2 separate regions of the Homo sapiens genome follow, and region 2 is linked to region 1. Evidence: fine-mapped expression QTL. Tissue or cell type: blood mononuclear cells. Region 1 holds a variant in brackets; the other region holds the start of a gene. All regions are shown on one strand. Distances are from middle to middle.

Evidence for each region. PIP is the estimated chance that this variant, and not a neighbour inherited with it, causes the effect.
Region 2: it holds the start of TMEM184B, and the variant in region 1 is fine-mapped to the expression of TMEM184B in blood mononuclear cells (TOPMed, PIP above 0.99). The same link has a PIP of 0.9 or more in transverse colon and whole blood.

What each region holds. Positions count from the first base shown.
Region 1 is chr22:38,224,954-38,227,709 of GRCh38, reverse strand. It overlaps TMEM184B (transmembrane protein 184B), which reads left to right. Exons shown (of 9, transcript NM_012264.5): 6 at 840-931; 7 at 2,117-2,286; 8 at 2,731-2,756. Among named protein-coding and RNA genes, the nearest start is that of SNORA92, 1.6 kb to the right of the region's middle. RefSeq lists an enhancer at 2,551-2,756. The variant G/T (reference allele first, on the strand shown) is at 1,119.
Region 2 is chr22:38,271,647-38,274,146 of GRCh38, reverse strand. It overlaps TMEM184B (transmembrane protein 184B), which reads left to right and starts at 1,137. Exons shown (of 9, transcript NM_012264.5): 1 at 1,137-1,263. RefSeq lists a silencer at 985-1,614 and an enhancer at 1,677-2,386.

The DNA of each region.
Region 1 (2,756 bases):
TCCTTTTCATCAGGGAGTCTGTGCTCAGAGGCCAAGTGTCTGCCCAAGCTGTCCCCAGAGTTCAAACTCAGATTTTGAGACTCTGGAGTCCACGTGCTCTGGGCTCCTGCAGGTCACCTCCATCCCCAGAGTGACCTCTGCTGACCAGAAACCCTGGACCCAGGCCCAGAGAGTAGGGCTAGGAACCAGATCGGGGGTGGACATGGAGGATGGGAGGAGGCCCTCACCTGCGCCGGCTTCCCGGTGGCTGGTTCCTTGAGCAGGGCCCTAGCCTTGCCCCGGGCACCAAGGTCTCCAGGACCTGGCCCTGCCCATCTCCTCAGCCACCTCTCTAGTGCGCAGCCCCTTGCACCTGTCCACCCTCTGCCTCGGGGCCTTGGTGCAAGCTGCCCCCTCTGCCTGTCGAGCCTCTCATCTCCGGCACCCACCTGATGGTCCTGGCTCGAGAAGCTTCCTTGTGTGCATCTCCTGTCTCCCGCCTCCATCGTGCCCTGCCACACCATTCCTCCCTTCCTCCCTCCCTTCCTCCACATGCTCATATCACATACGGCATTGCGCTGGCTGCATCTCCTATATGTTCTGCCCCCCGCCCCGCGCAGACAGCAGTCCCCTGGGAGCAGGACACGTAGCCACCCCCCATCTCCTCCATCTCCTCTATCCTTCCATCCCCTCCATCCCTTCGTCCCTCCATCCCCTCCGTCCCTCCATCCCTCCGTCCTCTCCGTCTCCTTCATCCTCTCTGTCCCTCCATCCGGTACAGTTCCGTCTGCCAGAGGCAGGGCTTGCTTCATGCCTTCTGTGCTCCTCCTCCACACTCAACCTCCTTTTCCCCCCAACAGGCCACCCTGCAGTTCTGTGTGGTGAAGCCACTCATGGCGGTCAGCACTGTGGTCCTCCAGGCCTTCGGCAAGTACCGGGATGGGGACTTTGAGTAAGCAGCGGGTGCTCCCCGGGGTGTGTGGGAGGAGTGTTGGCGCAGGCTGGTGCCTTGGCTCAGGGAAGGGGGCAGCCAGAGTGGCCGCACAGCCATGACCTTCCTGGGTGTCTGGTGCTCACAACCCCCCTGAAGTCTGAGCCCAGCAGTGGACACCCTTGCAGTTGGCCCCGCTGCCAGCCCC[G/T]GAGTGAGCCATTGGCAGCAGTCACGTTCATGTCCAGGCTGCAGAGTGGTACCATGAAGGGATGGGCCACAAAGGGACAGTGACCACTGCTGAGGCAGGGAGCGAGAGGGTCAGAGCCCCAAGAGGTCGGCTCAAGTCCACAGATACAAAGCCCGTGCTGTGTAAATTGTCCACACCCATTTCATTCTGGGCTTAGTGAAAGTGACCCCGTGGCTGGGCACAGTGGTTCACGCCTGTAATCCTAGCACTTTGGGAGGCCAACGCGGGTAGATCACCTGAGGTCAGGAGTTCAAGACCAGCCTGGCCAACATGGTGAAACCCCATCACTACTAAAAATACAAAAAATTAACCGGGCGTGGTGACGGGTGCCTATAATCCCAGCTACTCGGGAGGCTGAGGCAGGAGAATCGCTTGAACCCAGGAGGCAGAGGTTGCGGTGAGCCAAGATCACGCCATTGCACTCTAGCCTGGGTGACAAGAACAAAACTCCATATCTAAAAAAAAAAAAAAAAAAAGTGACCATGTGTCTAGCCCTGTGCTTTCAAGCTCTCGGCACACACTGTCTGTGAACTGTGTAACAGCCCTGCCAGGGCAGGTGGGCAAAAGGAGGTCAGGGGGATGCAGCCGACCGAGTGAAAAGGCAGCAGAGCTGAGCAGCGTCACCTATTTTGACGCCTGTTATCTGAGTGTCAGGCTATGGCCTCGGGCCCGGCCCTGGCTTCCACACTGGTGTCCAACGTTAGGAGTGTGGGCACCAGGGCTTAGACAAGTCCACGAGCCACGCAGAGGCAGTAGAGCTGGTCTGGCCTGCAGGCGCACCCCATGTACCCCCACCCCTGTCTGTCGCTTTGATCACCCATTCTGACCCCTTCAGTGGCTCGTTGAGCTCTGCTGGAGGTGTGGGGCTGAGAGCCATGGGGACTGTGTGTGGTGCAGTCGAGGAGAGCCCCTTCCCTCCAAGGGTCTGTCCCAGCCAGAAAATGCTCCCCGTCCCGCAGCGTCACCAGTGGCTACCTCTACGTGACCATCATCTACAACATCTCCGTCAGCCTGGCCCTCTACGCCCTCTTCCTCTTCTACTTCGCCACCCGGGAGCTGCTCAGCCCCTACAGCCCCGTCCTCAAGTTCTTCATGGTCAAGTCCGTCATCTTTCTTTCCTTCTGGCAAGGTGAGCCCCCTCCCAGCACCTGGAGGCTGCCCATGCCACCCTGTCCTCTGCGCTTCCTGCTGCCCCTTCTGCTTATGGTCCCTGGTGCCTGTAGGGCCTGTTCAGAGGGGCCTCAGCCCACTGGGCACTTGCTGGGGGTGAAATCTGAGCCCTCGAGGGCCTTTCCCAGGGGCTAGGGAGAGCTTTGGTGGGGCCGCTACATGGATGAGAGGGCCCAGGAGACCCTGCGTAATTGCTGGCATCTCAGTTTCGGTGGCAAAGAGCTGGGAGAGTGGGGTTTCCGGAGGCTGTGGCCTTGTGTCGCTACCCCTGCCCTGCAGGAGCAGCTGTGGCCCTGCTCACATCCTCACTGGGGCATGTGGGCAGCTGAATGGGGCATTGTGGAAGAAGGGGGAGCAGGAAAGGAATCATTCTGGGTCCAGACACCCGTGCCTCCCCATCCAGGCATGCTCCTGGCCATCCTGGAGAAG
Region 2 (2,500 bases), 47 kb before region 1:
GCCGAGATCGCGCCACTGCACTCCAGCCTGGGCAACTTTGAGACAAAGAGCGAGACTTTGTCTCAAAAAGAAAAAAGAGAAAAAAAAAAAAGGATCTCCCTCACCCCTGAATTGATAGAATGGATCAGAGGGCAAGGCTGGAACAAGGGAGAGGGGTTAGCAGAACTCTGCAATAATCCTGTGCAAATACTGGACCAGGGTGGTAGCACTGGAGGAGGAGTGGCAGACATCTGAGTCTAGATCTATTTTGCAGGTAGAGCCAACAGGATCTCCTGCCTGCCTTATTGGGTAGCGGGCAGAAGGGGGGCATTCATTCACAGCTGACTCCGAGTTCTGGCCTGGGGACTGGAAGGATGGAATTGTCAACAGCTGATGGAGGCAAAGCTGAGAGGGAGCAGGTTTTTGTGTGTGGAAGTGGGGTTGGCTCAGCTCAGACACGCTGACTTTGAGATGCCTGCTGGAGCTCCAAGGAAGAGGTGTTGGGTAGACAGTTCAGGCGAGGAGTCTGGAGACATAAATACATTTGGGGATCTTGAGCACATCAATGCCAGAACTTAATTGCATTTTATCTTGTTCAGTTAACCTAGGTGATGTCTGGACCGGCAAACAGAAATGGACTAGGCGGCTTGAACCCTATCTGAAGACTTTTGCTAGTTCGGCAGCCTAGAGCCAGACGGGGCAAGAAAGAATCGCTGCTAAGCGGAGTGGGAAAAAAAGGCCTCTTTCAGTGCTTTGCCATTTCATCTGGCCTAATTGCACACAACACTCGGTCCACGTTCATTCCACAATTCCACACGCATCCTTCACTCAACAAATAGCCATTGTATTTCGTTTCATCTTCAAAACAGGCTCAAATGGAGGAAATTAGGGTTAAAAGAAGTGAAGCACCAGCGAGGGTCAGGGGCAGAGATCGCAGCCCAGAAAGCTCTCGCGGTTGGGGGCCGGTCGTAGCTGGTTTTGTGAGTGGCAAGAGAACCCGGGTCGCGCCCCAACCCGCGGGGCGGCGGGCTGGGGTTCGGGGCGGCGGGCTGGGGTTCGGGGCGCGGCCCCTTTAAGGCCCAGGCAGTGATCTCAGCCGCGTCCGCCGCCCCGCCCTCCCCGGCGGCGAGCCCAGAGCGCATGCGCGCCGCGGCTGCACTCCACTGGGCCCGGGACGCGCCGGCGGCGGCGGAGACTCCGGGGCTGCGGCGCCGCCCGCCCCGCCCGCAGAGTCCGGCTGCCGCGCATCGTCCGCAGACGCCGCCACCGCCATGGGCTCCTGAGGTATCCCGCCTGGCCGGCCTCGCCCGGGAGCCCCAAGGGGGAGCTGCGACTCCCGAGCGCGGGGGGCTGCTTGTTTCGGAGAGGCCCGCGCGAGGGACGCCCGGCTTCGGCCGCCGGCTCCCGGGCGGGGAGGGCACTACGGAGGCCGGTGCGGCCGCGGAGGGAGGGGGCATCCGTCTCCCCACCCGTGCCTCCTCTCCGCCCCGCGAGGTCGCCCGTGGGTGTGCCCGCTCCCTTTCCACGCCAACGTGGCGGGGGCAGCTCCTGGAGTGTAATCGGACCTGTCCGGGGGGCGGCCCCGGGAGAGGGAGGCGGATGGACCAAGGCGCTTTGCAAGAGGGATTGTGTGCTCCCGGGTGGGTGTGCTGGCGACTGGCACGGCCGAGTGAGTGGGGGAGGCGTCCGTGCCCTGTGCGGGTGGCAGTGACCTGGGAGGGTGGTCGGCGGGGGGCTTTCGGGGCTGCGTCGTGAGTGGAGGGTGTACACGCCCGCCACACAGGTCCGCAGGTTTGGAAGGGGATCGACTGGGACCTGGGGCTCGAAAGATGTTTGCCCCCAAAGGGACCGTGGAGACTGGTTTTGGGTGTCTGTATCCTTCCCGTGAATTGTACATTTCCTCCTGGGCACACCCTTGGTACCTCGCTTGGATCCACTTACCTCCAGTGCTGGGTGGCTCCAGGCCAAGGCAAGGCAGTTATGCTGGGGGTTGGGCATGGATTCCCAATACATATCCCCTCTGGAGGTGTTGTATAAGGCCAGACGTTTTACTCCTCCCTCCTTTCCAGGGCATTTTGGGGCAAAGCAGGTATTTGCATGCCTGATACCTGTGGTGAGGTGAAGGCCATGTATTATTTATCTGACTGCTGGTGCTTTTGTAAGGAAAGAAGCAGCAATCTGTGCCCTGGAGGCCCTGCGCTGCAGAGTCAGCCAGGCAAACAAGCTCACCTGCACCTGCAGAGGCAGCGCAGGTCTCAGAGGTGTGACTTCGTTGACAGGTTATGCCTACAGTGTCCCTTTCCATCTACCTATTTAGCTTCCTTGGTAGAACCCCTAGGCTCTGCACCTCTGAACCTTGCCTAGGGTGCTGTGCGTATCAGAGTTGGGACCTGGGACGCTGGGGTGGGAGAGCCCCAGCAGCCAGGTATGTGTGCCCACCTGGACAGAAACATTTGATGCCCAAGCCATCAAGGAGCTCTCAAGCATGGGGGAATCAGATTTGGAAACAGGTGATCACGAT